2 separate regions of the Homo sapiens genome follow, and region 1 is linked to region 2. Evidence: fine-mapped expression QTL. A gene starts in region 2. The other region holds a variant in brackets. All regions are shown on one strand. Distances are from middle to middle. Region 1 overlaps DCUN1D1 (defective in cullin neddylation 1 domain containing 1). Region 2 holds the start of DCUN1D1 (defective in cullin neddylation 1 domain containing 1).

Region 1 (8,127 bases), 23 kb before region 2:
TAAATCACTGGGATAGCTCCATAACCAATCTCTCTTCTAGTTCAGCTTTCACTCCTTTCAAAGGACCACAGTGCTTTGAGATCGACCTTTCAGGCATGAATCTGGTGTCACTTCCATGTTAAAATTCTTCAATCATTTCCAATTACCTTTAGATAAAATTTGCACTTCTTGTCAAATGAACTCACTTGCAGTTCCTCAAAGGTGGAATGTTCTTTCACCTCTGAGCAAGTGAACATGCTAACCCCTCAACCTGAAATGGCTTCTTTTTTCCTTTGGTCTTGAAAATGTGCATTCATTCTTCAAGGCTCAAAAACTATACCCTTTTTGAAGGTACTGCAAACTACCCCAGACAGACTAAAGATGCTCTTGACTCCATGCTCTCAGTGAAAGCAGTCAAGTGTTTTTGAATAAAAAAGGAAGACTTTAACTCAAAAAGATTAATAAGTTATAACTAAGAGCTGAAATACATAAGATTAAACAAGGATAAAATGTTAATTGTCACAGGTATAGGAAAAGAAGCCCTCAGAAAGAAATTTATAAGTGATGAAGAGAGCAGCTTAGCTAGCGAGAGGTGATTTAACATAGTAGTTTACAGTATGAGTTTTAGTCTCTTAAACCCCTACTCTACCACCAGTTAAGTGACCTTGGGCAACTGGGCTGACTTCTCCTTGATTCAGTTTAAAATGAAGATAACAATAGTACCTATCCTTACCTGGTTGTTCTAAGGACTAAATGAGTTAATACATAACAAAGCATTCGTAACAGTACCTGGTAAATAACATATCAGTTCTTACTATTATCATTATTTTAAATCATTTAGAACTATTAGATTCTGAAGCAGTATTGGAAAAGACAACAAAGTCAGTGATAAGGTAACAAGAAGCAACAGCAGTTAAAATAAATGGAAGGCAAATATAGAGAAAAAGAAATAACTAAGTCCTAATAACAAGCTATTGCATAAAATTGAGATCCTTGCAGAATAAATCCTTAAGTCCTTACGGTAAAATGTAAAATGCAAACAGAGATACTCCCCATGTTATTCTTTCAAAGAGAATCAACAAGAATAATGTGGTATTTCACAACAGATGATCAGCTGAATGCAGGATGAACATGGAAATGAATTGAGACTAGACCCAATCACAGTCCCTAAAAGAAACAAAATGTTGCCAGCTCACTGGGGAGGATGGAATGGTGATTAAAAATCCTATTCACAATGTCTTTTTTAATCAATCTCAACAAATTTTATAACAATGAAAAAAGAGATATAAAATAACATATATAGTATAAGTCTGTTCATACAAAGTTCAAAACCAGTGCACATTTTCAAATGGTTCAGCAAATAAAATATGTGTGTACATCCATCTACTGAGATATAAAGAAAACGTGGTAAAATGTTAACAATTGGGAATCCAGGTGAAGAATACGCAAAAGTTCACAGAACTATTTTGCTACCTTTTCTGATTGATATTTTCAATTGATATTTTTCAAAACAAAAAGAGGAAAGTTAAAAAACCAGACAAAGCTAATTTATATCGTTTAGGAACAGAAACATGGGTAGTAAAAGAATTAAGACTATAATTATCAAAATTCAGAATAATTTCCAACTCTGGGAAGAAAGATGAGCTTTTGCTGAACGAGAGCCTTGCTGGGATCTTCTGATGCCGGCAGTTTCTTCACCTGGCTGTATAAATGCATGAACTTTTCTTTATATTTATTAAATTATCTATATAAATTCTATGCATTTTTTTCTGTGTGCACATTTCACGAGAAAAAAGGTAAAAACAATGTGATGAGGTATATAAAAATACAAATAAAAATCGCCATACACTTGTTAAACATTAGTATTTGAGAATGCTGCTTCTGCTTTTTAACATGCAAACATAAGTATGAGGCTTTTGCTATGAGTCATTTACTTGAGATCATTTACCAAAAGGCACTTACTGAGGACCAATTTTTGAGGCTAGCAATATAATAATGTCATTTTATTTTTACATGAGGTGGTTCCTTTCTTATACAACCATCAATTCTGAATCTGGTTTAGTTTGGTATTAGATAATACATCATACACAATTTATATTGTTCGTGTCTAAAATTTGTCTACTTTTCTAAAGGTTTTTCTGATTTCCTCATTAGGATTTCACAGTATCTTTTGTGAAATAGTCAGAAGTTGGTCAGAATTTCACATTCTTAAATTGACTTTTTTTTTTTTTTGAGACTGAGCCTCGCTCTTGCTGTCCAAAATGGAGTGCAATGGTGCGATCTCGGCTCACTGCAACCTCTGCCTCCAGGGTTCAAGGGATTCTCCTGCCTCAGCCTTCCGAGTAGCTAGGATTACAGGCATGCGCCACCACACCCGGCTAATTTAAACTGACTTTTAATACAGTAATATTAATTCACTTGAGGGTCTCCTCCTGTGTTTTCTAAACCAATATCAAAATCCAAATCATCATCACTTTCTTCACTTCTTCTGCAGCTTCTTCTATGGTTGGAACTTAGATTATTTTCAATATTCTCTGTTTTTCCTGGTTCTTTATTGAACAGAATAGCAATGTCTTCTTCTTCCCACATTTTGCGCAAACTTCAAGTTCATAGGCACATGGTCTACACGTTATGAGATAAGAATCCTCCACTGTCTTTTGTAAACATTTAACACATTTTTTAGGTTGGATAATGGTTTGTATTTGCTATATTTTACATGCCACTCAAGAACTTCTTTACAGCGCTGACATACTCCATCAGGAGGGTTTTTTTTTTTGAGACTGAGTCTCGCTCTGTCACCCAGGCTGGAGTGCAGTGGTGCGATCTCGGCTCACTGCAACCTCCACCTCCCAAGTTCAAGTGAACCTGCCTCAGCCTCCCGAGTAGCTGGGATTACAGGCACCCACCACCACACCTGGCTAATTTTTGTATTTTTAGTAGAAACAGGGTTTCACCATGTTGGTCAGGCTGGTCTCCAACTCCTGACCTCAGGAGATCCACCTGCCTTGGCCTCCCAAAGTGCTGGGATTACAGGCGTGAGCCACCGCGCCCAGCCGCACCATGGTTTTGTGTTACTTTTCTTGGTCTAAACATGCTTATCAAACTTTTTTTTTTTTTTTTTGAGGCAGAGTCTTGCTCTGTCGCCCAGGCTGGAGTACAGTGGCACAATCTCAGCTCACTGCAACCTCTGACTCCCGGGTTTAAGCCATTCTCCTGCCTCAGCCCCCCGGGTAGCTGGGATTACAGGCAGGCACCACCATGCCTGGCTAATTTTTTATTTTTAGTAGAGATAGAGTTTCACCATGTTGGTAAGGCCGGTCTCGAACGCCTGACCACAAGTGATCCACCCACCTCAGCCTCCAAAGTGCTAGGATTATAGGCGTGAGCCACCATGCCCAGTTGAACTTGTCATTTTTGAAGCTAAATATATTCTGGTGCTTCTGAGGCCTGGAATGAGGCACGTTGCCTTTCTGGGAGCTCATCACCAAAACCCCAATCACCCCTCACTGGGAGCAGGCAAAAGCCACAATGTCTTAATTTACTTAGAAATATCTACGGCTAACACAAAATAACAACAACAACAACAATAAAACACAGAATGTGGAGTCATAAGGCCTGAGATCTAGTCTCAGTGCCAGTCCAACCACTCTCCAGTTAGGCGACCTTATTAACAAGTCAGTCTCTCTGGCTATGAGTTTCCTCATCTATATGATGGAGAAGATAATATGCTTTTACTTAGCTCAAAGGGGTTGTTATGAGAACCAAATGGGATTATACAGATTATCGTGTTCTTTAAAACACTATACAATTGTTCCTAAATATTAAACTAAATATTTAACAAATAATGTTCAAATCATTTAAATCAATTGTAGAGGTATAAGATTCCAGCTGAACCACAACCTACAAGAAAGTGACTCATAGACTTTAGTCTAATAAAAGTTCAGTATGGCCCTAAAAATGATATGGCTGCTAAAGAACATATATAATCTTTGATCAAATTAACATAATGAATAGTCTCACAAAAATTAACAGACCCACGGTGTTCTATATTACTTAGGCTCCTTTTGAAATATGATGTTCAACTTTATGGGCTCTATTTTGAAAGAAATTGGAAATGTGTTTGGGGGGATAGTAGTGGGAATAACAAATGTCTCCTGTAAGAAGAATAGTTAAAATAATTGGAATGCTGGCCTGGAGAAAAACAACAGGTAACTGAGAGTGGATCTTTAATTTTAGCCTTTATCAGTGTTGCACTGGGGGACAAGTAAGAGCAATGATAGAAGTAATAAAGACAAAGATGTTAGCTTAATAAGGAAGAACTGTGTAATAACAAGTAAGGATATTCTGTGATAGGAATGGACAACTTCCTAAAACAATGTGTGTCCAGTCCCTGCATGTTCAAAAGGAGAAACTGAATGAGCATCAGGTAAGGATGCTACTTTGGGTAGGTTAAATTTTATAGAGGACTTATGAAATCCTTTTCAAATTTTAAGATTCAGGCAATTATCAGAAAATGGCAGGCTGGGTGTGGTGGCTCATGCCTGTAATCCCAAGACTTTGGGAGGCCAAGGCGGGGTGATCACTTGAGGCCAGGAGGTTGAGGCCAGCCTGGGCAACACGGTGAGTCCTTATCTCTACAAAAAATGTAAAAATTAGCCAGGCATGGTGGCACACGCCTGTAGTCTGGCTACTCCGGAGGCAGAGGCAGGAGGATCACTTGAGCCTAGGAGTTTGAGACTGCAGTGAGCTACGATCATGGCACTACAGTCCAACCTAGGCAAGAGAGCCAGATCCTGTATCTAAAACAAATCAAAAAAAAATGTTTAAGTCAGATTACTAAAGCAGATGGCAACAGAGGAAGCACCCTATCCTGGTATCACAAGAAGTAAGGTTATAAAAAGTGAAAAAATAACCAG[G/C]CTGGGTAATACCGCAAGTCTCCAGCTCCACAAGAAATTAAAAAATTAGCCTGGCATGGTGGTGCTTCCCTATATAGTTCCAGCTACTCGGGAGGCGGAGGCAGGAGGATCACTTGAGCCCAGGAAGTCAAGCCTGCAGTGAGCCACGATTGCACCACTGCATTCCAGCCTGGGCAACAGAGCAAGACCCTGCATCAAAAAAAAAAAAAAAAAAAAAAAACAGAAACATGGAATACACCAGTTCTCATTTTAATTAGCACAGCTATTTATAAACAAACCACAGGGTTGTCACTCACTCTCTGCCAATTTGTTTTGGGCCTTACCTCTTCTCCTATGATCTTCTAATTCCTCTCTGCCAAATCTTGTAATTTAAGAGCACTGTGAACCCTTAGAAAGGCTGTTATAAAAAACTGTTTCCTTTTTAATTAAACTCTGCAAATAAGCAAGTCATTACATTTCCTGATACCTAACACCAAAGCAAAACAAACCAAAAAAAAAAACTATGATTTGTCTCTTACTACATTTTTCTTTTTTTTAATTAATAGACTTTTTTAGTTTTAGGTTTATGAAAAGTTGAGCAGAAAGTAGAGATTTCCATATACCCTCTTCCCTAGTCAGTTCCTACTATTTTTAACATCTTGCTTTAGTGTGGTATATTTTTTATAACTGATGAATCAATATGAATATATTATTATTGACTAAGGTCCATATTCTACATTAGAGTTCATTCTTTGTATTGTACACTGTATGGCTGTGGGGGGGTCTTAAATAACATTTTCATTGTAGTTAAATACATATAACATAAAGTTTATCATCTGAATCTTTTTGAAGGGTGCAGTTCAGTGTGAAGTACATTCACATTGCTGTGCCATCGATCTTCAGAATGCTCATCTTATGAAACAAAAACTCTACATCCTTTAAATATTACATTTTTTCTTAAGCACAATACTTATTAGATAACAGAATAAACACACATAATTCTTCAACATAATGCTTTCACATAATCTGTTTCTCAATTTTTTCCTGTAATCTAAAATTCCAATTTACCATATTAATATATCCAATAGTTATAAAAATTTAATTTTGCTCAATTCTTACCACAAGTAATAAAAACTAAGATTCAGTCTCAAAACTATATATTCACCCAAAACACCATTTATTTTGTGCTCCAGTAAAGGGTAGCGATATAACTAAGAAATAGGTTATGTCCCTTTAAATCAACATTTGACATTCACATTATATTTAATCTTATCAAAATATTGTACTACACTTCTAAATATGACAAAATAATTATTTTACACATACATGTAAATTCAAAGACTTTAACAGATTATTATTTGTGGAAGGAAAGAGAAAAACAGAAAAAACATCCCAGTTAACTGGTGGCCCCAGACAGAAAAACTAATTGTAGGTATCCCGGCTTATTCTGCCTGCAAAATGAGGATTTTTCCTTTAAGAATAAAATCCTATCTATATTGAGCAATCAAGTTGGAAAGGAGGCTTTATTATTGAGAATTTCGCTTTACAAATATGTTATGAATCTTTCATCAATTCAGTCATGTTTAGTAACTCGTGGGGCCATACCACATTACAAAGGTTATACATTTATCCCTTCCTCTCTACCTTTCCGTCACTTCCTCAATCTAATCCGTTCATATAATCTGTTTCTCAATACTTTTTCCCCCCAATTTAAAAAATAAAGTGGAATTAGTGCAGAAGGCCCCTTATTAGCCTCTCCAACTACTATATCTTCAAAAACCAAAAAAAAAAAAAAAAAAAAAAAAACCTCATTTACCTTCACTGGGTAAGTTACTTAACCTTCCTGTGCCTAAATTTCCTCATCTTCAAATTAAGGATAATAAACTGCTAGCACTTTATTACTATGTATTTGGCACGGCACATAGCAGGTGGTAAATTACTGAATGAAAGGATGAATCACTCAAAAAATTGGTAAACATTAAATGAGGCAGTGCTATGGTTTGGATATAGTTGGTTTGTTCCACCAAAACTCGTACTGAAATTTTATCCCCACTGTGGTGGAGCTGGAAGATGAGGCCTGGTGGGCAGCATTTAACTCATGGGGGTGGATCCCTCATGAATGGCTTGGTGCTATTCTCCTTTTGCAACAGTGAGTTCTTGCCAGAGGGAATGGATTAGTTCCTGGAGTGTGTTATTATAAAGCGAGGCTTCCCCTCCTGTTTGGTCTCTCTCCTCACAGGAGTCCACTTCCCCTTTGACCTTGTCTGCCACGTGATGATGCAGCATAAAAGCCCTCTGCAGAAGCCAGGGCCATGCCCCACTCCTAGCCTGCAGAATCATGAGCTAAACAAACCTCTTTGTAAGTTACCCAGTCTCAGGTATTCTGTTATAGCAACACAAAATGGACTTACATACAAGACAAGTAGTATATGTAAAGTACAGTACTTAGCACAGTGCCAGACATACTAAAAGCTCACATTAAATGGAAGTTATCACCATCATCAAAATCTTCATTGGGTCCCCATTTCCCACAAATTCCAATTTAAACCTTTCTGTCTCCAAAAAAAAAAATAAAAACAAAATCCTTTCTGATTTCAAAAGAAGCCTGTGGTTATTCAGCTTTCTTGTGTCTCACCAATTTCATCTCCAAACAAGCATTCTCATTAAAATCAAACCAACAACTTCTCTCCTGCACAAAGCCAAGCTTATTGCTGAAATTTTAGACCTTCATTCATAACTATCTTCTCACTGGAACATCTTTTATCTTCCCTCGTTCAGCCAAATACCAAATCCTTTAGTTCATATCCCACCTTGTCCAGGAAGCATTTCCCAACCACTCCTGCTTTTACTCATTTCTCCCTCTAAAACCCTTACATACTTTTATTATTTTGTAATTACCTACTAGCACTATCTAATCTTTTTAGGTAATTTGCAAATTACACTGTATCTTTTACTCTCATATCCCCTTAACTATCCCAAAAGCAAATGTACAAATACAAATGGATTGATCTAAACTTTTACAGTGGTTATTTCTGGATAATAAGACTATGAATGATAAGCACTTCATTTTTCATCCTTATAGTTTTCAAATAAATCATAACAAAAAAGAATAAATTTATCTGGCATTCTATGACTCAGAAATCTTATAGTGCTATTTCTATAGATCCTAAGATCCTAAAATATCTTCAGGGTCATGAATGAAAAAATGAATGAATGGATGAATGCATAAATAAATAACTGTCAGTGGAATTTT
Region 2 (8,127 bases):
AAAAAAAAAAAACAAAAACAAAAAACAAAAAACAGAAAAATGGGAGTAGGTGAGGGTCAGGGGGAGATAAAAGTGTGGAACCAGAGACCAGGGTCCTAACCCCTGCTCTGCCACATACTAGCATGAAATCATTTAGAATCGCTAAGCCTTCATTCCCAGATATGCTAAAAAAAAAAAAAAAAAAAAAAAAGTAGTAATAATGCCTATTTCAGAAGTGGGAGTGGAGATTAATGACAATTGTAAATTGTCTGACTAGTAGAGTGTACCTTCTCGATAAATGTTAATTTCGTTTCTTTGTCCCCAAAGGCCCAGTTTTCTGCATATAGTCACTGAACTACATATAAACCACTAGAACATATTCAACAATCTATCAAAGAGGTTTGGTTGTGTTTTTATTAACCCTAGTGTGGCTAGGTATACTTGATAATCCATTAGTTTTTATTGAACATTAGACAGTCATCTTAAACAGAATTCAAAACTCTGTACATAGAAGCTGCATGGTAAAGAAAACTGTAATAAGGGTCTTCTGAAAAAACTGCTTTTAAAAATAATTATCTGTAATACTGTCACAGGACACTATGGAACAAAAAAAAACAAGGTATATCGTACCACTCAGAATCCTTCAATGGATTTCCATTTCTCTAGGATAAAAGCCCAGTATCCTTACAGTGTCCACCCATGCCTACCCCCACTCCTTGCCACCTAGGCCTCATCTGCTCCAACGACCCCCTGTATATACACATGTACATATACATACATACACACACACACACACACACACACACACACACACACACACACACTGCTCCAGCCACATTGGTCTCACTGTTCCTCAAGATTTCTACATTTCTGCATGGCTTATTCCCTCATCCCCTACTCTGTTCAAAATTATCTCATTGGTGATACAGATATTTAGCAACCCTACTTCCATCAATGCCCTAGCACCCCCAATCCCCTTCCCTAACACTGCTTTCTCCCACAGCACTTAACACCTTCTAACATAGTAAAGAAGAAAACTATATACTATGTTTATTATTTATGTCTCCCTACTAAAAGGTACCCCTCACCAGAGTGAGGATTTTTGTCTCTTCTGTGATATATACATCCCTTCAGTGCCTAACACTATCTCTAGCACACAGCAGACGTATAATAATCACTGAAAAGAACTGATAACCTCCTTTATTTGTAGACATGCAAAGAATGTGCAACAAGTTATGAAAAGACAACCTTGAATAGACCTACATGTATTTGAATTTACAAATTCTAGTATTTGTTGACAACATAATCTTAAATTTCAAAGTTCATATATATTTAAAGCCATTGAAAACATAGGCATTAACATCATTGATCACCCATTAATATGAATTTTGTTACTTAACATATTCATAAATAACATGGGGTTTCCTGTGTTTAAGTGATGGATATGATTTAATTTCAAATGTAATTTTCTGGATTTCATATGAGTTAACAGATAATACTGGGGGAAATGGTAGACCAGGAGAAAATAGTTTCAGTTCTGCAACCAACAATCCTGCAAACCTGAACCTCAAAACCTCCTTGATATTCAATTTCTTCTTGTGTAAAAATGGGGAGGAGTAATTAGATGATCTCTGAGTCTATTTCAGGTCTAAAAATTCTATGATGCTATGAGTCTAAAAATCATTAGAATCATAAAATGTCTATGCTGGATGAAACTTTAGAAATCATCAAGTCCAATCCTGCCATCTTATAAATAAAACAACCCACACGTTTTGAACACTTTTTTTTTTTTGAGACGGAGTCTCGCTCTCGCCCAGGCTGGAGTGCAATGACGCGATCTCGGCTCACTGCAACCTCCTCCTCTGGGTTCCAGTGATTCTCCCGCCTCAGCCTCCTGAGTAGCTGAGACTACAGGCCCCCACCACCACGCCTGGCTAATTTTTGTATTTTTAGTAGAGACGGGGTTTCACCGTATTGGCCAGGCTGGTCTCAAACTCTTGACCTTGTGATCCGCCCACCTTGGCCTCCCAAAGTGCTGGGATTACAGGCGTGAGCCACTGCACTCAGCCGAACACTTTTTAAAAATATGTTTCAGGCTGGCGTGGTGGCTCACGCCTGTAATCCTAGCACCTTGGGCGGCCGAGGCAGGTGGATCACCTGAAGTCAAGAGTTCGAGACCAGCCAGGTCAACATAGTGAAACCTCGTCTCTACTAAAAATACAAAAATCAGCCGGGTATGTTGGCGGGCACCTATAATCCCAGCTACTTGGGAGGCTTAGGCTGGAGAATCGCTTGAACCCAGGAGGCACGGGTTGCAGTGAGCCAAGATTGCACCACTGCACTCCAGCCTGGGCAACAGAGCAAAAACTCCATCTCAAAAAAAAAAAAACAACAACAACAAAAAACAAGTTCCAAAGTAACAGAATATTATCTAATTTTGGAGTCGTTTTTAGTCTGTGTGTGGGGGGAGGGAGGAAGTTAACAGAACTTTTTTACTTATACAAAGTATTTCAAATATCCCATCATTTAAGTTTGCTCTAGAACTGACAATAACATGTGCTCTGGAAATGGGCTGCAGCTACAGACACCAAAAAACTCACAGCCCCGAAACTGCATAAAGAAACAAATATATGTAAGATAACTTTATAATGAAACAACTTCTTAACTATAAAATTCTTACTGCCTAACTTCGATTAGGGCCAGTGGTGAGTCTCTTTCCTTTCTTATTATTTTTTTTAAGAGACAAGGTCTGTTAGCCAGGCTGGAGTGGTGCAGTGGCAGGGCTCACAGCAGCCTCAACCTCCCAGCTCAAGTAATCCTCCCACCTCATCCTCTGGAGTAGGGGCAACCACAGGCTAGCACCAGCATGCTTGGCTATTTTTTTTCCTTGGGATGGAGTCTCACTACTATGTTGCGCAGGCTGGTCTCAAACTCCTAGGCTCTCAAGCAATCCTCCTGCTTCGGTGACCCAGGGTGCTGGGATTACAGGCATGAGCCACCGTGCCCAGCCCCTACGGTGAGTTAGCTAAACCAGAGAATATCACGACAATTCTCATGACATAAACTGAGTTCAGCCACAGGATATGTTTTAAATTAATATCTTGTCACCACTGGTAGAATTACATGGGTTATGGCTAAGTTTCAAAACTAGCTAATTTTAATATTAACCAAAAGAATAGAAGCTTACAAGCTGAACTCTCCCTACGAACCACTTGATGCCTGAATTCCTGAACAGGTGATGAGTATTTCCGGGACCCCACTGTCTAGGGGATGATGCGGATCTGGAGACCATCCTGAAGAGCACACATTTCAGCTGTGGCTGAGTGTTTCCCAGGGAATTAACGTCATTACTTCGAGCTTACTATACTTATCTAAATGCTAAGAGTCTGGAAACTTCAGGAGTAATGTCTATGACCATCTAAATACTTAAGAAACTAGAAACTGTTTAGACTGCCTGGTGGATCTCTGAACACTGTAATACTAATCTATACATTAACCTGCACTTTAAAGTTTTCTTACCAATTCAAACTGTAAATTCCTACACAACTTGCCACAGAACATAAGTGTTAAATATGTGTCAGACTAAACCATATATCCATACATGACAACAAAATACTGCCAAGCTGGAGGATGGGACTAGAAGTGTCATTCAGCAAAAATAAGACCAACTAAAAACAAAGACACTGGAGCATTCCCTTAACACAGGCGCGCACACACACCCTCCTCAAAGAGGCCTTTATGTTCCCCACGAGCAAAGGACAACAATATCATTTTTACTATTCATACAGTAACCTGCACGGAATTCAACTCACGCTCAGACTGTACAATGCCAAACAGCGCTTCTGAAACGCGAAGAGCGTCCAGCAGAGTCAGGTACTTAATTACCAAAGTAAACAACTCGACCACAAGGGTCTGCAAGCCTGGAGAGGACTTTTTCCCCCCCCCAAACAAAAAAGGAGAGTAACTTGACAAACTGTTTTAAAAAAAATCACAAATGGCCCTTAACTACTATAATAAAGCAATTACTCCTCCCACCCCCAAGCAAATAAAATAGGTGCTCGAAAGGGCGCTCGCTAGTCTGTGTTCCCTAATTTTATGAAATGAGAACAGGTTGCACTTCCGTACCCCCTCCCCCAAGCTCAGCAGTCTCCCATGTTTTCAGTAGAGAGGTAAATATAACCTCCACCAACTGGCCGGGGAAACTCTCCTTCTCCAAAAGCATGGGACGCCTCGAGAGGTGATGGAGAAAGGAAAAGGGCTGATACCCCGCCCCAAGCAAAACTGCCTGGGAGACTTGCGGGGTATTGGAGCCGGGAGCGGAGGAGGGAGAGGCGCGCCGGGAAAGTCTTTCCTTCTCCCCGGCCGGGCGGAGAGGGAAGCCCCGGCTTCGGGGCGGGGGGAGGCTACTCACCCGGAACCCCAGACCCCAGTCCCCGACCAGACACAATGGAGCCGGCAGAGGGGCAGGGGCAAGGCCGTTGCCCCCTCCCCTCCCCCCGCCCCAACGCCTCCCCCACCCGCGCCGGGCCCCGGCAAGGGGCACCGGGGCCGCTCCCCGCGCCCCAAACTCCCCGGGGCTCCCGACTAGGCCCGGCTCCGCTCCGCCTCCTCGGCTCTCGCGTAGCGGCTGCGCCCGGGCGGGAAGGGGCGAAGGAGGAAGGGAGAGGCAGGCAGGAGAGCCCCCGCCTGGGAGCGGGACGGAGGCCGCGGGCCGAGGCTCGGGGCTGCAGGGTCGCCGCGGGACGGAGGGCGGCCGGGGCGGGGGTGCGCGGCAGCGCCGGCCCCCAGCCGGCAGGGCGGGCGGGCGGCCGCAGTGCCTCACCATGTTGGTGTCCTCCAGGCCTCTCCCCTCCTCCTCCGGCTCCGCAGCGAATGGACGGCGGCGGCGGCGGCGGCTCCTCTCACGGGCTTGCCCGGCTCCCGCTCATGCGCAGTGCGGGGCGGCCCGGCGCGGCCCGAGGAGGCAGCCCCGGACCTCGGGGAGGCGGAGGGACGGAGGCAGGCGGAGGGCGCCCCGCGCGGGGCTTCCCCCGGGCGCGGGGGTCCCCCGGGGAGTGGGCGGGGGCGGGGGGCGCGGCGGGGGAGGGGCGGGCGACGCAAGCCCTCCGCGCGCCGACATCCTCCTGCCGCGCCGGGCGGTCTCTGGTGGGGGCGCCGGGGGACACCCCACCTCCGTTTCCTACGCGGTTCCTTCCGGACGACCACGGCCGGGTCTACGCAGGCTGGAAGCGGGCACGAGCGGCGGCGGATAAGTTGAGCAGCTGGGGGCGGCTGAAACGGATGGTTGAGGAGCTTCATCCATCCCAGACCTCCCCTCCCCATCAGTATCAAAAAAAGGGAGAAGATAGTGGAAACACCTCCCCCTGCCCCGTGTTTTCTTCTTTTTCCCCCCAATCTCAGTATCAGACCTACATCAGTTCCCTCGCGTGGGCATCCCAGGGGAGACCTTAGTCCCCCCCCTGCGGTGGCTGTCACTCCATTAGTGAGGACCAGGCTCTCCCCAGACCTGTCTACTGGGAGACAGTTGGGGTAACCCTATAGTGAGATGGGGTGGGGTGCACTGAGACCCAAGGCCGGGCTGCGGGAGTCCAGGTTGCCTGCCTACTGCTAGCTCTCAGTATCCCCTCAGTTCGGCCCGCCCAGGATAAGTTTCGGGAAGCAACTACACATTTTTTCACTGAGGGTCTAGTCACGCAGGGCGGACAGTCCAGGTGTGACCTGCCCTGGGCGTTAAATCAACTGAGGCTGAGGAGCACTAGGATTCTGAGCTGAGGATCAAGTGGACAAATTCGTGCTGCAAGGAGGACAGAAGACTCCTGTGGAGTAAGTGGTCCTTGCCCTTCAGAAATGTAGTATCCAGTTGGAGAGATAAGACACCTTCACACAGGAAGGAAATAAAACAGCTAAGAAAGCAAACTCACTCAGAAAGTCACATCTGAAACTGTACCAAGAGCTTACCTACGTTTCAGAACAGGACCCACCTGAGTAGACCCGTTATCACCATCATCACCAGCACAGGCATTAAACGACCAGATCAACCCTATAACTAATGAATTTGTTCTTACCAAAACAACAGAACTTCTTTGGTAACTCCCAAAGGCCTCCTAACTTCCTGGAGCTAGCCATGTACTGGGAGCGCCCAGCGCTGTACCAAGGCAGGTTTCTGGCGGCCACAAACCGTTCATCCATTCTTTCCCCCAATATTTAAAGAATGCATGTGAATGTGCCAAGCTCCTTGCTGGGCTCTGGGTAAATAGTCCTGCAAGGAGAAGCCAGATCTGCCTCATGCAGCAAGCCTGAAACTGGACTACATCCACGGAGGTTCTCCAGGAATTCACCTAGCTTTTGACCTAAAGTATTAACACCTAGGGCGTTAATGAGGAGGATTCACTGTATCTCTTACTCCAATCTGTTCTACTCCATTGAAATAATCGTTTGTGGGTTTTCCTAAGCTCTACCAAGGTACAGGCCTTAGTTATTCTAATTGACCTCTCGCCTGCGTTTGGACACTTCCTCCTTGAATTTCCTGTTCATTTTCCATGACTCCACCTTCTCCTGCATCTCCTCTTTACTCTGACCACTCTCCTTTGCTGGCTGTACTCAATTTAGGCTTTCCTGACCATTCCTGAACGTCCTTCTGTATACAGCCTGTGTCACGCTGTCACTCACATTCCCACGTCAACTACTGCCCATATCAAGAGGAATCTCAAATCTTGACTTCCAGTCCCCAAGTGACAGGCCTAAACACTCATTCTGGTCATTTCACAGGTCCATCAAGCTCACCAAATCTAAAACTTTATCCCCAAACCCACTTTTCCTCCTGCCTTTTATCAAATCATCCAAACTAGAAATCTAAGAATCATCCACCACTCTTCCTGCCTCATCCCCTTACTCCGCATCTCACCAGTTTTCCCTCCTAAATGACTTTTAAATCTGCACCCTGCCTTCTATTTCTTAGCCAATTCTTTTTGTTGTTGTATTTTTTTGTTTGTTTTTGAGATGGAGTCTAGTTCTGTCACCCAGGCTGGAGTACAATGGCGCAATCTCAGCTCACTGCAACCTCCGCCTCCCAGGTTCAAGCGATTCTCCTGTCTCAGCCCCCACCGAGTAGCTGGGATTACAGATGTGTGCCACCATGCCCAGCTACTTTTTGCATTTTTAATAGAAACAGGGTTTCACCATGTTTGTCAGGCTGGTCTCGAACTCCTGACCTCATGATCTGCCCCACCTCGGTCTCCCAAAGTACTGGGATCACAGGCGTGAGCCACCGCGCCTGGCCAGCCAATTCTTTATCATCTCTCCTCATCAGTAACTTCTTACCTAATCTTCCAGCCTCTACTCCTTCTCCACTGCTCCATAGTTGTCTTTCTATAATGCAAATGTGAATTTGTCCGTAAAATTCTCCAAGAGCTGCATAAGCATGAGCCTCTGGAATGGCATTAAAGTTCTCTCCTCTGATCTATCCATTCCCATTGCCATTTTCCACCACCCTCCACCCAAATGCACCTCATATTTCAGTTTTCACAAACCAAGACTGCCATACCTCTGCATGTTTCCTTGCTTTCTCCAATTCTCCTATCCCTGGCCTCCTAGCTAATACTGACTGAGCCCATGACACATACTAATTTATGTAATCCTCACTGCGACACATACTAACTCATATAACCTCACTTCTACCCTATGAGCATGCCCAGCTATTACGCCCATCCTACAAAGGGGAAAATGGAAGCACAGAGAGATTAAATAATATGCCTAAAATTCCCTAGCTAGGCCAGGCGCAGTGGCTCACGCCTGTAATCCCAGCACTTGGGGATGCCAAGGCGGGCAGATAACTTAAGTTCAGGAGTTCGAGACCAGCCTGGCCAACATGGCGAAATCCCATCTCTACTAAAATTAACCGGGCATGGTTGCGCATGCCTGCAATCCCAGCTAGTCCGGAGGCTGAGGCAGGAGAATCGCTTGAACCCTGGAGGCAGAGGTTGCAGTGAGCTGAGATCGCGCCACTGCACTCCAGCCTGGGCAAGAAGAATGAGATTCCACCTCAAAGAAAAAAAAAAAGAGATTCCCTAGCTAGCAAGTAGCAGAGCTAGGATTTGAAACCTGATAGTCTGGCTATCTGGTTAGTCTATTCTCTTGATTACCACATTA

Evidence for each region. PIP is the estimated chance that this variant, and not a neighbour inherited with it, causes the effect.
Region 1: its variant is the best candidate, but not a certain one, in a credible set for the expression of DCUN1D1 in whole blood (TOPMed, PIP 0.53).

The regions. Positions count from the first base shown.
Region 1 is chr3:182,952,847-182,960,973 of GRCh38, forward strand. The region is part of intron 4 of DCUN1D1 (defective in cullin neddylation 1 domain containing 1); the gene reads right to left. It also overlaps the pseudogene C9orf85P2. Among named protein-coding and RNA genes, the nearest start is that of DCUN1D1, 24 kb to the right of the region's middle. The variant G/C (reference allele first, on the strand shown) is at 4,896.
Region 2 is chr3:182,975,686-182,983,812 of GRCh38, forward strand. It overlaps DCUN1D1 (defective in cullin neddylation 1 domain containing 1), which reads right to left and starts at 4,853. Exons shown (of 7, transcript NM_020640.4): 1 at 4,802-4,853. The coding sequence starts at 4,804. It overlaps LOC105374246 (a long non-coding RNA gene), which reads left to right and starts at 5,122. Exons shown (of 2, transcript XR_924771.2): 1 at 5,122-5,802. RefSeq lists silencers at 4,522-4,641, 4,702-5,141.